Linked DNA regions of Homo sapiens: region 2 is linked to region 1. Evidence: fine-mapped expression QTL. Tissue or cell type: thyroid. Region 1 holds a variant in brackets; the other region holds the start of a gene. All regions are shown on one strand. Distances are from middle to middle.

The links. PIP is the estimated chance that this variant, and not a neighbour inherited with it, causes the effect.
Region 2: HSD3B7 starts here. The variant in region 1 is fine-mapped to the expression of HSD3B7 in thyroid (GTEx, PIP 0.94).

What each region holds. Positions count from the first base shown.
Region 1 is chr16:30,885,358-30,893,357 of GRCh38, reverse strand. It overlaps BCL7C (BAF chromatin remodeling complex subunit BCL7C), which reads left to right. Exons shown (of 6, transcript NM_004765.4): 2 at 68-146; 3 at 410-518; 4 at 611-772; 5 at 4,413-4,498; 6 at 5,368-5,563. The coding sequence ends at 5,493. All of the region lies in intron 2 of MIR762HG (MIR762 host gene), which reads right to left. Among named protein-coding and RNA genes, the nearest start is that of MIR762, 4.5 kb to the left of the region's middle. RefSeq lists enhancers at 1-153, 1-324, 5,401-5,902. The variant C/T (reference allele first, on the strand shown) is at 3,101.
Region 2 is chr16:30,981,749-30,989,748 of GRCh38, reverse strand. HSD3B7 (hydroxy-delta-5-steroid dehydrogenase, 3 beta- and steroid delta-isomerase 7) reads right to left here and starts at 4,542. Exons shown (of 7, transcript NM_025193.4): 1 at 4,452-4,542; 2 at 3,925-4,096; 3 at 3,545-3,700; 4 at 3,218-3,326; 5 at 3,045-3,144; 6 at 2,747-2,909; 7 at 602-1,981. The coding sequence starts at 4,090. The coding sequence ends at 1,566. SETD1A (SET domain containing 1A, histone lysine methyltransferase) reads right to left here. Exons shown (of 19, transcript NM_014712.3): 18 at 5,977-6,114; 19 at 5,085-5,899. The coding sequence ends at 5,726. STX1B (syntaxin 1B) reads left to right here. Exons shown (of 10, transcript NM_052874.5): 10 at 1-493. RefSeq lists enhancers at 1,216-1,715, 4,561-5,073.

The sequences.
Region 1 (8,000 bases):
TGTCCAGCTCCTAGGGGGGTGGGTCTCCCCTCAGGCCTCTCTGACCCAGCCCCCCACCCTCCCACAGGGAGAAGCGATGGGTGACTGTGGGCGACACTTCCCTTCGTATCTTCAAGTGGGTGCCAGTGGTGGATCCCCAGGAGGAGGTGAGCAACCCCCATTCCCACAAGGCCCTGCATCTGTGCAACCTCAGGCAAGTTCCTCCCCACGCTGACCTCTACCTCCAGCTCCCCGAGACCTCAGATGCAGCAGGACAGACGGGAACCATCATTAGCAGCTCCTCCCCTTTTGCCCTCTTTTCTGCTCCACACCCCCTGAGTTTGAGCCCTTTTGCTTCTCAGTGCCTCAGTTTCCTTAGGTGTATGGTGGGGCTTTCCAAGAGCTCTGACCCTAATCCTCTAACCCCCAGGAGCGAAGGCGGGCAGGTGGCGGGGCAGAGAGATCCCGTGGCCGGGAACGTCGGGGCAGGGGCGCCAGTCCCCGAGGGGGTGGCCCTCTCATCCTGCTGGATCTTAATGGTAGGTAGGGATCCTGAAACGCGGGGGGCTGTGGGGACTGAAGGAGTGTACTAGGGATCTCAGGCCAACCATCTCGGCTCTTGCTCCCGCAGATGAGAACAGCAACCAGAGTTTCCATTCGGAAGGTTCCCTGCAAAAGGGCACAGAGCCCAGTCCTGGGGGCACCCCCCAGCCCAGCCGCCCTGTGTCACCTGCCGGACCCCCAGAAGGGGTCCCTGAGGAGGCTCAGCCCCCACGGCTGGGCCAAGAGAGAGGTAGGACCAGGTACCTCCCAGGAGCTCTCTCCTCTAAGTCCTGTCTTCTCCAGAGTCTAACCTACCAGCTCATCCCTATACCTGCTCCCCGTCTTGTGCACCCTCCTCAAGGCGCCTTCCGACTCCTGCAGAATCTCCCTGTAGCTACAGTCTCATTCCTCTGGTCTCTTAGAATCTATACAGACATATCACTGTCTGAGATTTTCATGTAAATTAATTTTTTACTAGTTTATCTTTCTCCTCACTCTCATGTCAGTTTCCTGAATGTTGGGCCCATATTGATCCTTTTTTTTTTTTTTTTTTTTTTTTTTTTTTGAGAAAGGGTCTCGCTCTGTCACCCAGGCTGGAGTAGTATAGTGGTGTGATCATAGCTCACTGCAGCCTTGAACTTCCTGGGCTCAAGCGATCCTCCCGCCTCAGCCTCCCAAGTAGCTGGGACCACAGGCATATGCCACCACACCTGGCTAATTTTTGTATTTTTTGTAGAGATAAGGTTTCACCATGTTGCCCAGGCTGGTCTCAAACTCACTTGCTCAAGCAGTCCTCCACCTTCAGCCTCCCAAAGTGCTGGGATTACGGGTGTGAGCCATCACACCCACACCCGGCCCTCCCCCCCCTTTTTTTTAGAGACAAGGTCTCTGTCACCCACGCTGGAGTACTCTGGTGCAATCATAGCTCACTGCAGCCTCAAACTCCTGGGCTCAAGGGATCCTCTGGCCCCAGCCTCCCAAATAGCTGGGACTCAGGTGTGTGCCACCATGCCCAGCCAATTCTTAAATTTTTTGTAGAGGTAGGGTCTCGCTATGTTGCCAAGGTTGGTTTTGAACTCGTGGCCTGAAATGATCCTCCTGTCTCAGCCTCCCAAGGTGCTGGGATTATAGGCGTGAGTCACTGTGCCTGGCCCTATGTGATCTTGTTCACTACTGTATCCTCAGAATAATATGGGACACATAGTAGGTGCTCAGTAAATATCTGTTGAGTGAATAAATAATAGTGATAGTCATAGGGGTGATTAACAATAATAGGAATAACAACAGCTAGTATTTATTGAGCTCTTACTGTGTGCTAGGTGCCCTGGTAAACACTTTACGTGGTTGGGTTTTTTTCTTTTCTCTTTTTCTTTTCTTTGAGAGAGTTTCGCTCTTGCCAAGGCTGGAGTGCGACGGCACAATCTTGGCTCACTGCAACCTTCACCTCCTGGGTTCAGGCAATTCTCCTGCCTCAGCCTCCTGGGTAGCTGGGAATATAGGCATGAACCACCATGCTCGGCTGGTTTTGTATTTTTAGTAGAGTTGGGGTTTCGCCATGTTGGCCAGGCTGGTCTCAAACGCCTGACCTCAGGTGATCTGCCCGCCTTGGCCTCCCAAAGTGCTGGGATTACGAGCCACCACGCCCAGCCTTTTTTTTTTTTTTTTTTGAGATGAAGTCTTGCTCTGTTGCCCAGGCTGGAGAGCAGTGGTACGATCTTGGCTCACTGCAAACTCTGCCTCCCAGGTTCAAGCGATTCTTCTGCCTCAGCCTCCCATGTAGCTGGGATTACAGGCATGCCACCATGCCCGGCTGATTTTTGTTTTTTTTGTTTATTTGTTTGTTTGTTTTTGAGACAGAGTTTCATTCTTGTTGCCCAGACTAGAGTGCAATGGCACAATCTCAGCTCACCGCAACCTCTGCCTCCCGGGTTCAAGCGATTCTCCCGCCTCAGCCTCTCGAGTAGCTGGGATTATAGGCATGCACCACCATGCCCCGCTAATTTTGTATTTTTAGTAGAGACGAGGTTTCTCCATGTTGGCCAGGCTGGTCTCGAACTCCCGACTTCAGGTGATCCGCCTGCCTCAGCCTCCCAAAGTGCTGGGATTACAGGCGTGAGCCACCGTGCCTGGCCTAATTTTTGTATTTTTAGTAAAGATGGAGTTTCACCATGTTGGCCTGGCTAGTCTCGTACCCCTGACCTCAGGTGATCCGCCCGCCTCGGCCTCCCAAAGTGCTAGGATTACAGGTGTGAGCCACCGTGCCCAGCCAACACTTTACGTGTTTTTTTCTCATTTAATTTTTACTACAACCTTATAAGGGTGATGATCTTGTTATGATCCCTATTTATAGATGAGGAAACTGAGACCCAGAGAAGTAACTCAGCCAGTGAGCCAGCATCTTGGGCCTGTGTCCTCATCAGCTCTGCTTTTTTTTTTTCCTTTGAGATGGAGTCTCACTCTGTCACCTAGGCTGGAGTGCAGTGGCACGATCTTGCTCACTGCAACCTCCGCCTCCCAAGTTCAAGCAATTCTCCTGCCTCAGCCTCCTGAGTAGCTGGGATTACAGGCTGCACAACAC[C/T]ACACCCGGCTAATTTTTGTATTTTTAGTAGAGACGGGGTTTCATCATGTTGGTCAGGATGGTCTTGAACTCCTGACCTCGTGATCCACCTGCCTCGGCCTCCCAAAGTGCTGGGATTACAGGCTTGAGCCACCGTGCCCAGCCAGCTCTGCTTTCTTCCATGCAGTCAAACCCGTCTGATTGGCACCTCTTCCTCCTAGGCTCCCTGTCCCTGGCCTTCCCATTTCTCACCCGTTTTTGGTTCCAGCTGGTCTCTTCTAGTCACCTCCACACAGCTGCCAGAACAACTTTTTCCTTCATTTTTTAAGCTTTGCTTTTTTTTTTTTTTTTTTGAGACAAGGTCTCACTCTGTCGCCCAGGCTGGAATGCAGAGGCGTGATCACGGCTCACTGCAGCCTTGGATTCCTGGGCTCAGTCAGCCTCCTGAGTAGCTGGGACTACAGGCATGCATCACCATGCTCAGCTAATTAGTGTTGTTATTCTTTATAGAGACAGGGTCTTACTATGTTGCCCAGGCTGGTTTCAAACTCCTAGGCTCAAGCGATCCTTCTGCCTCAGCCTCCCAGAATGTGAAACCCTGTCTCTACTAAAAATACAAAAAATCAGCGGGACGTGGTGGCACATGCCTGTAATCCAGCTATTAGGGAGGCTGAGGCAGGAGAATCACTTGAACCTGGGAGGCGGAGGTTGCAGTGAGCCGAGATCGCGCCACTGCACTCCAGCCTGGGGGACACAGCGAGACTCTGTCTCAAAAACTAAAACAAACAAACACACAAAAAGAAAACCCTGATGTGGGCCTGTGGACTGGGTCTGGGTCTAGACAGTGCCAAGCAGTTGTATACCTTTGCTAATATAAAAATGGTAGCAAGCATTTATTGAGCACTTACTGTGTGCCAGCCACTGTGCTTTACCTGCATCCGCTCATCTGACCCTCACAACAGCCACATGAGGTAATTACTATCATTATCCCCATTTTACAGATGGGGAAACTGAGGCCCATGGAAATGAAGTAGCTGGCCCAAGGTCAGGATTTGAACCCAGGCAGTCCAAGCCCAGAATCTGTGGCAACTTAGCATGCATTCCCTCTGTCTCACGTGTCATACTTTCCTGTCCACCGCATCACCCTCGAGCTCCCACATCAGTGTTCCCTCCTCTGCTTCCTGGGGCACAGCCAGGTTCCTGCTCTCTCCTCTCTGCTCCCATGGCCCTCTGCCCTCTGTGACTGGGGCCTGTGACCATCTGTTTCCCCCACTGTCTGTGCTGCTGGCACAGAGTGGCTGTTCAGGGGATGTTTGTTACCTTGACGTTCCAGATCCCGGGGGCATAACTGCTGGCAGCACCGACGAACCCCCAATGCTGACCAAGGAGGAGCCTGTTCCAGAACTGCTGGAAGCTGAGGTGAGAGAGGCCAGAAGGCTGGACTCCTGGGTCTTGGAGGGAATGGGGGATCTGGGCAGTCGAAGGCTTGGAGCCTGCGTCCTGAGGGCCTGGAGGAGAGGCAGACCTGGGACAGAGCTGAAGGCTTAGGGGCTGGGTTCTTGGGACTGAAAAAGAAAGGGTGTTTCAGAGACAAAGTGCTGAGGGCTGGATCAGGGCTGATTGAGACCATTAAAAGCCTGACAAAGCTGGGCGTGGTGGCTCACGCCTGTAATCCCAGCACTTTGGGAGGCGGAGGCGGGTGGATCATGAGGTCAGGAGATCGAGACCATCCTGGCTAACACGGTGAAACCCCGTCTCTACTAAAAATACAAAAATTAGCCGGGCGTGGTGGCACGTGCCTGTAGTCCCAGCTACTCGGGAGGCTAAGGCAGGAGAATTGCTTGAACCCGGGAGGCGGAGGCTGCAGTGAGCCAGGATCGCGCCACTGTACTCCAGCCTGGGTGACAGAGCGAGACTCCTTCTCAAAAATAAATAAATAAATAAAGCCTGACAAAATCATGGCGCTCCTCCATGCATTTTCAAAAAATATCAAAAAATATCTAACTGTATAATTAGCATAAGAAAATTCCTTATAAACCTCTGACATTTCTCACGAGGCTACCTCGAGGCATTTTCAGAAATATCAAATATCAGGTTCGTTCCTCCACACAGTGTCACTGTCGTTGTTGTTTTTGGTGCCTGCTTCCTCTGCATCCTGGGCATCTGGCCCTGGGCTTGCCTCCCGGGCCCAGGAGGGGAGGGGAGTGGAGGCTTTGGAGAAGGCAGAGGCTCAGAGGCTGGACGCCTGGGTTCTGTGGAGCTCACGCCTGTCCACCCTTCCTCTCCAGGCCCCCGAAGCTTACCCTGTCTTTGAGCCAGTGCCACCTGTCCCTGAGGCAGCCCAGGGTGACACAGAGGACTCGGAGGGTGCCCCCCCACTCAAGCGCATCTGCCCAAATGCCCCTGACCCCTGAGAAGCCGGCCTGCCTGTCCTGTTGCCCCAGGGGCCCCTTTGGCTTTTTACAAATAAAGACCCTTTTGTAATTTTGTGTCATGTCATTTCCCCGTCAGGGCTGGGGAGGGTCTTTGGAGACAGTTTTGTCTCATGCACCATTGCTCAGATGTGGTCACTGAGGCTCTGAGAGGACCTTCCTGTAGTGACACCACAAGGCAGAGTGGGGTGGGGGCTTGAGCCAGGACCCTGCCTCTCAGTACTTCCCAGGTCTGTCCTATCTCCCGACCTTCACCTCCTCCTCTGGGAGGCCCAGGACCCCTCTTCCTGCTCAGCCCTCGCCTGGGCCTAACAATTATCAAAACTCTGGGTAGCTAGGCCATGATTCTTTTTTTTTTTTTTTTTTTTTTGAGACACAGACTTGTTCTGTTGCCCAGGCAGGAGTGCAGTGGTGCGATCATGGCTCACTGCAGCCTTGACATCCCACCTCAGCCTCCCAAGTAGCCGGGACCACAGGTGTGTGCCACCATACTCAGCTAATTTTATTTATTTATTTATTTATTTATCACTATTTTTTTTTAGAGAGTTTTGCTCTTGTTGCCCAGGCTGGAGTGCAATGGCGCAATCTCGCCTCACTGCAAACTCTGCCTCCTGGGTTCAAGCAAGTCTCCTGCCTCAGCCTCCTGAGTAGCTGGGATTAGAGGTGCCTGCCACCACGCCCGGCTAATTTTTGTATTTTTAGTAGAGACTGGGTTTTGCCATGTTGGCCAGGCTGGTCTCAAACTCCTGACCACAAGTGATTTGCCCGCCTCGGCCTCCCAAAGTGCTGGGATTACAGGCATGAGCCACCATGCCCAGCCTGCTAATTTTATTTTTTGTAGACATGGGGTCTCGCTACATTGCCCAGGCTGGTCTTGAACTCCTGGGCTCAAGTGTTCCTCCTGCCTTGGCCTCCTAAAGTGTTGGGATTACAGGCGTGAGCCACCGCGCCCAGCCTATTCACGTTTCATACATAATAACACAGAGGCCCAGAGGGACTTGGGGGCCTGGGATGACCAACCCATTCCCTGCCCTGAAGAAGCCACTCCTCCACCTGGGATGCCTGGCCACACTTCTGGTTGGGTCTAACTTATCCCCATCTCAATCACCATCTCCTCCGAGAAGCCTTCCCTGACTCCAGGCTCAGTGAGTTTCCCCTTTTTTGAGCTCCAGCAACCCCTTGGGCTTCATTCTCCTTGTTTCATCATTTATCAGGCTGTTCTGGGATCCGTGGTTTGTGTGTCTGTCTTGTCTACGAGGCTGTGGGCTCCTGAGGGGTCTCCACACAACACTGGGAACAGGGCAGTCCCAGCAGCTGCTTCATGAATAAATGAATACATGAATGGGCTGGGGTTTTCCAGGCAGGCTTCTCTGAGGAGGTGGCATGTGAGCTGGGCTCTGAGACATGAACCTCTGTGCTAGAACTCAAGTCAGAAGCCCTGGTTCAAGTCCTGGCTCTGTTACTCCCTGAGTGGCTCTAGGCAGGCTGTTTCTACTCTCAGCCTTAGTTTGTTCATCTGAGCAATGGGAACAATAACTAGGCCTCATCTGCCCCAGGGGTTTGTGGGAAGCTTCGAGTAATATAAGGCCCTCTCACTCTGTGCCTATAGGGTCATGTATATTGGCCCTATTTTTATTTTTAATAAAGAAAGATACTGAGGTTCAGAGAGGACCAAATTGGAACTTTAAAGAAGCATTAAAAACTGTAGGCTAGGTGTGGTGGCTCACACCTGTAATCCCAGGCCTTTGAGAGGCACAGGTGGGAGGACTGCTTGAGGCCAGGAGTTTGAGACCAGCTTGAGCAACAAAGCAAGACAAAAATGAAAAAATTAGCCAGGCATACTGGTGCGCGCCTGTAGTCCAAGCTTCTTGGGAGGCTGAGGTGGGAAGATTGCTTGAGCCCGGGAAGTTGAGGCTGCAGTGAGTGATGATTGCACCACTGTGCTCAAATCTGGGCAACAAAGCAAGACCCTGTGTCTAAACAAACAAAGGAAATGTAAGGATGCTTCCGACAGCAGCTGCAGTGGTGTTGGTGGAGCCAGTGCTGTCCAGGGAAGCCAGGCTTGCTGCAATGTAGTGTAACTGTTTCTTATCACTGCTGTAACAAATTGCCACACATATAGGGGCTCAAAGCCACAGACATTAGCCAGGCACAGTGGCTCATGCCTATAATCCCAGCACCTTGGGAGGCCGAGGTGGGTGGATCACCTGAGGTCAGGAGTGTGAGACCAGCCTGACCAACAAGGTGAAACTCCGTCTCTACTAAAAATACAAAAGTTGGCTGGGCATAGTGGCGGGCGCCTGTAATCCCTGCTACTCGGGAAGCTGAGACAGGAGAACTGCTTGAATCCGGGAGGTTGCAGTAAGCCGAGATCGCACCACTATACTCCAGCCTGGGTGATGGAGCAAGACTCCATCTCAAAAAAAAAAAAAAGAAAAAGCCACAGACATTGATTCTCTTACAGTTCTGGAGAAGTCCAAAGTTAGTCT
Region 2 (8,000 bases), 96 kb before region 1:
GTACACATGATGTGTTCTATGCATTCACCCTGCCCCCCAGCCCGCCCTGCAGAGGACAAGATGGGTGGCCCCGGCTCCCTTTCCCCTAACCGCCCCTGCCCGCTGTGCAGCCGTGTGCGTTGGCGTGTGTTTCTGTGTCACTGGCGTGTCACGTGATGTAGCCGTGTTTGCTGACATGAGCCCCTGCCCCCTTCTCTGTTTCTCCGTTGGTTTCTAGAGCTCTCTCCCTCCCCTTCTCAGAGGGGACAGGACTCCTGGGGCCTGGCTGGGGCCCAGAGCCAGGCCGCCCTCTCCTGTTAGCCCTCAGAGTCCCATTTCTGTTAGCCCTCAGAGTCCCATTTCTATTGGTGACCAACTTGCAAATGGATAAAACACAGGAAAATCCTGCCCCCCCCTTCCTCCCTGCATGTCCTGTCCCCAGAGCCCCCCACCCCACCCTGGGCCAGGTCAGGCCCTGTGGGACGGGAGAAATAGCAACCAATCCAACAGCGGGTGTGCCGTGTGCTCACTTCCTTCTGTCCCCACGTGGGATGGGCGCCGTGGGGAGGCGGACATGGGGTGGGGGGATGGGAGGGAGAGCTGGACAGACAGATGGACACGGTCGTGGATGAGGCTTTTAATCCGGGGTCAGCCAGGTACAGCATTGGGGACATCCCCAGGCCCAGGGCTGGCGATGTGCTGGGAAGGAACTTAGGTAGAGAGGTGGGAAGTGAAAGCATAGGGAGGCCATAGCCCTCCAGAGGGGAATTCTAAGACAGACAGTTGAAGGTGAGGCCTTTGAAAAACAATGGGAACATCACCTCCCAAAGAGGGACTGAGGTGGCTGGAGGAACCAGAGCCGCCTCTGCACTCTGCACCGAGGGTCGCGTGTGGCTGTCAGGAGAGCAGCGTAAGCCTGTGGAGCCTCTGCTCGCTTCCTGCTCAGAAAGCCAGAAGAGAGCTGGGGCAGGCCACCAGGGCACCAGACACTCACCAAGCGGCCATCAGGACTGGGATGAGAGGACAGAGGAAGGACACTCTGTCCCCAAACCCTCCCGTGTCCTGACGGCCCTAGAACTTGGAGGTGTCAGGACACAACACAGACTCAAGGCTCCTGGATTGAAAATGTGGAGGGCTTGGGCCAGGCGCGGTGGCTCACACTTGTAGTTCCAGCGTTTTGGGAGGCCCACGTGGGAAGATCACTTGAGCCCAGGAGTTCAAGACCAGCCTGAGCAATATAGTGAGACCCTGTCTCTAAAAACAACAAAAAAAAGCCAGGTGTGGTGGCGTGCACCTGTGGTCCCAGCTGTTCAGGAGGCTGAGGCAGGAGGATTGCTTGAACCCAGGAGGTTGAGGGTGCAGTGAGCTATGATCACACCACTGCACTCCAGTCTGGGTGACAGAGCAAGACCCTGTCTCAAAAAAGAAAAAGAAAATGTGGAGGGCTCTACGACAAGGACAGCCATTCTGGCCCCAGAGCCCTGCCTCCTGCTCTGGAATGCAGCTGTCCCTTCCCGTCCAGGGTGTGAGGGCTCGGGACCTGGGTGGATGTGCTGTATCTGGGCCTCCAGGCCCCAGCCCCACCGTCACTGGGCTGAACCCGTAGCGGCCTGTACCCAGAGAATGGTACGGGTCCGGCTATCCTCCCACGAGAACAGGGGCTCATAGCCGAAATGGCGCTGAGCCTTGTCGGTGCTGACGGTGAAGGTGGTGTTGGCCACGGCCAGCGTGTAGGGGTTCAGCAGGGGTGCGTAGAGCACCAGTGGCCGCAGCAGCCACTGCAGCAGGGCATTGAGGGCAGCCAGGAACACCAGCAGCCAGTAGGGCAGCAATGGGCGGGCGCCCACCAGCCGCAGTCCGCAGGGGCCCAGGAACTCCATGTTGAAATCCTCGTAGCTCCTGTAGGGTGATCCATCGTAGCAGAAGTATACCTGGCCGCCCATCAGGGTTGCCCGCTGCTCCAGCTCCCGGGCTGCCAGCACGTGCATCCAGGCAACATTGCCTGCCGGTGGCGGAAGAGAGGCGGACACACCCCTGAGTGCCCTTGCAACACCACATCGAGGCTGCTCTCCTGGGCCACCCCCTCTTTGGGCCCAGGTAGTTGCCGCCCACATCCCCACAGCAGCCTGGGAAAGGCTGCCTTCTCCCTCGCCCTGGTAGTCACTTGCTCTCCTGGGCCAGCCTGCATCTGCAAAGAACCTGGGGAGAGGATAGAGAAACCAGGACCTGCGTGGTGGGCCCTGAGAGGCTTGGGGACTGCAGGATGGAGTGGCAGGTGACCTTATTCCCTGTGTAGATGCTACTTCCTTTAAAAAAAGTTTTAGAGACAGGGTCTGTCTCTGTCATCCAGGCTGGAGTGCAGTGGTGCGGTCATAGCTCACTGCAGCCTCCAACTCCTGGGCTCAGGCCATCCTCCCGCCTCAGCCTCCTAAAGTGCTGGGATTATAGATGCGAGCCACTGAACCCAGCCCTTTTAGTGCTGTGTACACACTGTCCCTCTCCTCTCCTCTCCTGGGGAATGGCTGCTCCCATAGCTGCAATCTTCTCTGTAGCCTATGATACACTTTTTAATGTCCCAACTTGCATGGATCCTGTATTCTCTGCAGGCTGTGGAGACATAATCACAGTCTACCTTGGCCCATGTATAGACCATATTTTTCTAGCCAGAGTCCACACTTCTCTCCCAGGGCCATGTGGGTCCTGCCCCCTTCTAGAGCAAGTCCTCCTGCCATATTCTCAGCCTCCCCCTGCCTAGCCCAGTCCTCACCCACATAGACCCGGCCATGCTCCACAGAGGCCGGGATGGCCCGGAAGAGCCAACCTCCCAGGCGCAGGCCCTGGCGGTAGAAGTCCCTCATGATCTGGTGGCCTTCACCGTAGATGCCCGTGGGACGAAGGGCACACGTCACCAGGGGCAGCCCCCCACGGACCTGGTGGCAAAGGCAGGTACTGCTGAGACCTGGGACCCGACAGCTTGCTCTCGGCCCCGGCCTCCTTGGGCTGGCAGGGTAAGGGGGTGTGCAGGGCAGGAGCCCCATCTCTGCGCCTCCTTTTTCTGGGCTCACCTTCCTCCCGTTGGCCTCCAGGACCAGCCACTCGGCCAGGGCCTTGCTGCAAGGATAGGGGTGCCTGTGCACTGCTTCGTATGGGGTGTCTTCGTTGCCCCTGGTGGGAGGAGAAGGAAGACTCAATGCTGAGGGAAATGGGCTCTTAGAGGACAAGAGGGCCTGCCACTCACCTGTAGAAGGGGTGACCTTTGGTGTTAGGCCCCACAACTTCCATGCTGCTGGTGTAGACCAGGAACCGTGTTCCGGTCTGCACACAAGCCTCGATCACGTTCCGGGTACCTGGCAGAGGAGGAGGCGTATCCAAGCTGCAGCTTCTTCCCTCTCTGCATCTTCCTCCTCCCCATCCCAGGTCCAGGGAAAACCATGACAGGTCAGGGGAGGCGGGGGCAGGGCTGTCAATAGGACAACTTGTCCCAGGGGAGTCACCGGAGGTCAAGGCCAAAGACAGAGTGGGGAACAAACAGGCAAGATGGCCAGGAGTGTCCAGAGCTCCTCACCCTGCACGTTGACCTCATGGATGGTCTTGGGACTGGCCCTGCCAAACACGTCTACCAGCCCAGCCGTGTGGATGACCACATGGGCTCCGGCCACAGCTGCTGCCACCTCATGGGCCTGGGTCACGTCCCCCTGGATGGCAGTCACCCTCACAGGCCCTGGCCGGGGTTGGAGGACACAGGCCATGTCAGAGCTGGGGCCAGAGGCCAGAGGCTGGGTTCATCTTCCACCCTGGAGTCACGTTCCCAATGTGACTCACTCGACCCATCCATGTGGACAGAAACCAGCATCATCTGTTCCACTGCAGGGGTGGGGATCCCAGCTTGGGAAGGGTTGGGGAAGCGTCCACACCCTCTCCACCACAAGCTCCCCCAACAAGAACCTGTCTTCAGCTCCTCCAGCCAGGGACCCAGGTGTTGGTCAAAGACCCGCAGCTCCCCGAGCCGGGGCTCCCGCTGCAGCAGCATTCGCACCACGTGCTCTCCCAGGAAGCCACAGCCCCCTGTGACCAGGTACACCAGCTTCTGGGCCTGTGCAGAGTCGGCCATGCCTGGCTGGGGAAGAGACCTTGGCTCATCCAGGGGCTGGCTGCCACCTGCTGCAACCACCTGTTACTGCTGGAGGTGCCCTGGAGCGGTGACGAGGCTGGCGTTTGCGGGGAGGGCAGAGCTGATCCTGGGAGCTGCAGCAACCAGGCCACCTGCCGTCTGCCCCTGCTGATGGCTGAGTTACGGAGAGAGGGGCGGGCTTGGGGTGCAGGAAGGGGTCAGGGTTTAGGGAGAGAGATTTGAAGGCAGTAAAAGGGTGGGGAGGCCAGGAGTTGAGGGAGGTGGAGGGAAGGTTATAGGAAGGTGGGAAGGGCCGGATGGAGGGAAAGGCCACCTGGGCACTGGCAGCGCCTCTGCCTACCTGCAGCCGCTATCCCAGGGTGCCCAGACTGGCCTGGAGGGGCCCTCTTCTTTCGTCCAGGGCTGGCCGGCCCGCACACCGTCCTTCCGCTGGCTCCTCCTTCTCCCTCCTGCCCCATTCCAGGAACAGAGACCCGCCCAGCCACAACCCCCACCACTCTTGCCCCAAGGCGCCCCCTGGCGGCCGCTCTGTGCTCCACTGGCATCTGGGTCCAGCGGAGAACTTGGTGGGGATGAAGCTCGAACTTGCAGAGTGGGCTGAAGGGGTCTGGGGCTGTGGGTGGAGCCAGCGGTGACCTCATCCCACAGTGTGACCTCAGGCCTTCCCTCCTGCTGGGCTTCCCAGGAGGCCGGAGGTCCAGCTGCAGCTGTGATTGTAGGAAGGGGAGGCCTGACCTTGGCACCACCCTGGCGGGCACTGGTGGGGTATTCCTGGTGCGGGTGCGGCTGCTGCAGCCTGTCAGGGGGTCCGAGACAGTCTCGGACTGTCTCTGCAGGTCTGGGCTCTTGCCTGAAGGCCCCTTTACCTGCCCCACACTTCAGGTACCCACTTTTCCCTCTCTTCAACTTGCACAACCCTCCGTGCCCTCTACCCCCAACCCCTCGCTCCTGCCCAAATACACCGACCAAACACTTTTGTACAATAAAGTTTAATCACAATTATAAAAATGTGGCGTCGGGTTTGCGCTATTAACATATGTACAGTCCAGCCCAGCAAAAGGGACCCACCCCGCCATCCTGGCCTGGCTGAGCCGGGGAGTGACACCAGGGTGGAAGGGTGACCCTCAGGGTCTGGCAGGAACAGATGAGGCAGGGTTCCAGGCACGGAGTCCCCAGGACTGGGGGTGCAGAGCCCCCCCAGGGGGAGAACATGGCCACTGCCCCAGAGACCCCTAAACTGGGGAGGGGTACACGCAGGGCGTAAGGGGAAGTCCCCATTAACACAAAGCAAGAGGACTGTGTAGCCCCCCAGGACAGAATCTGTACAGGCCGGCACCCCAGGTTTCCACAGGAAACAGCTGCTGGCTGCTACAAAACATTTACAGCTTCTTCTCCGCAAAGAAAAACAATCAGGGGGTGGTGGGCAGGGGTGACAGGAGAGGCAGAAGCTGCCTCCAGGGACTGAGGCTCCCTCGCTGGGCTTGGGGCCCCCAACCCCACGCTTGGAGATGGGGGCATGTGGGCCCTGCTGAGCCCACTAAGGCTGGGGGGGTGCTGGGAGCTCAGGGCACCAGGGGGAATAAATAGGGGTGTGGGCACCCATCCTGCCCCACCTCAGTTTAGGGAGCCCCGGCAGCTCTCTGTGCCACACAGACACGGGATCTTGTTGTCTTCCAGTGGGAACTTGTAGTCGTAGGTGATCTCCTCGTCCACGCCAATGGGCTGCTTGGAGTAGATCACGATCTTCTTCTGGGACTCGATGGTGATGACCTTGGCGTAGCAGTTAGGCTGCGGATGGAAGGGCGTGTGAGCCGTGGCCACCCCCACCGACCCCCAACTCCTGCCCCGGCTGGCCCCTGGCGCACCGTGCAGCAGTGGTTGATGAATCTGGCCAGGTTGCCACACTTGGTGGCATCGATGATGGTGTCGTGGTCCACCCGGAACAGGTAGCTGCTGCCAATGCCCTCCTGCACGTAGCGCTTCTCCCGCATGTCGGCCACCATCTGCCAGGGTGAGATGCGATGGTCAGGGAAGAGTCCCCCACTTCCTGCCCCTGAGCACGCCTGCCAGCCAGCACCCCAGGTCCACGCCCACCAGGCCTGGAGCTGCAGCTCTGCCTCCAGCTCCCGCTAACCCGGCACTGACTCTCTCGACTCTGCTTCCAGGAGCCCTCCCTCTTTGGGGCAGCATCCTAAGCCTCTGGTGGCCATTCTAAGTCACCCGCAGGGAACTCCAGGGAAATCTGCACTGGGTAAGAGAGCCACTGACTCCTTCGAGCATCTGCCTGGTCACAGTGGGGTCCCGGACTGCTGGGGCAAGTCTGGGGTTGGGGCAGCTCCTGAAATGACTGGCCATGTCACCAACGGCACCCTGCTCATCTCTCCTCCCTGGACCTCTCTCCAAAACAGGCACCTGTTGGCTGCCACCGGCTAATGCAAATGGCAGGCCGCCCATGTCAGGCCCCGCACCTCCGTGTGAGGAGCAACCCTTACTTCCCAGAAGACAGTGAGGAGCCTCTGCACGCCCTCCTCGGGTGACCTCACTCCCTTCCAGAGCCTCAGCCGCCAGCTATGTGGTGGGGACTCCTCCCAAACTTCCATTTCCAGCCAAAAGCCACCTCAGTGGAGCTGCTGGGCGTCATCCCCTAGATGTCCCTGGGGCATTGCAACCCCACATGTCCAGACTGGAGCTCATCTTGACCATATATTTGTTCTTCCTCCTCACACCCATCTCACTGGCCCTCCCATCATACTCCCAGCAGCTAAGAGCAGCACCGAGAGAGGGCCTCCCGTCCCCCTCACCCTCTCACTGCTGAGCCCAGCCAACCACCTTGCACCCAAAGCCTCCTCTCTGTCACCTCTGCTGCCACTGCTTGGGTCGGGCCACCCTTGCCTTTGCCTGGATACTGGTGTCAGCCTAGACATGGAGCTCACTAGCCATGGGGCCCTCTCCTGCGGAAGGACCCTCTCCTGCGGAAGGACCCTCTCCTGAAGAAAGCTCCGGGACTTTCCTCCTCTCTCACCACAGGCCCAAGTGGATTCACAGGCTCCCAAGCCCGTGCGGTCTGGGCTCTCTGTTCCCTCCAGCCACACGTCGCTGCCACTGACCCTGTTTTTTCTTTTCTTTTTTTTTTTTTTGAGACGGAGTCTTGCTCTGTCGCCCAGGCTGGAGTGCAATGGCGCGATCTTGGCTCACTGCAACCTCTGCCTCCCAGGTCCAAGCGATTCTCCTGCCTCAGCCTCCCTAGTAGCTGGGATTACAGGCGCCTGCCACCACGCCTGGCTAATTTTTGTATTTTTAGTAGAGACGGGGTTTTAGCATGCTGGCCAGGCTGGTCTCGAACTCCTGACCTCAGGTGATCTGCCTGCCTCAGCCTCCCAAAGTGCTCGGATTACAGGCATGAGCCACCGCGCCTGGCCATGGCCCTGGTTTCTAATGAGCCAAGCTGACCTCCACACTCTCACAAGACGACCGTGCCTCCAGGTTTGTGCACATGGTGTCTCGCAACCAAGCGCACACACACTACCACTTGTCTGGGCCTGCGAGCTCCTTTCAGCTTTACTCAAGCACCATGGTCTCTGGAAGGTCTTAGGCCCCCCAGGTGTGTGTTCCCATAGCCCAACTCCCCAGATCTTGTTAAGATCTTGTTAATACCAAATGCCATCCTTTTGGCTTTTGTTTTTTCTAGAGACACGGTCTCACCCTGTTGCCCAGGCTGGAGTGCAGTGGTGCAATCTTGGCTCACAGCAGCCTCCACCTCGTGGTCTCGAGTGATCCTCCCACCTCAGCCTCCTGGGTAGCTGGGACCACAGCCATGTACCCCCACGCCCGGCTAGCTTTTGTATTTTTTGCAGAAACGGGGTCTGGCAATATTGCTCAGGCTGGAACA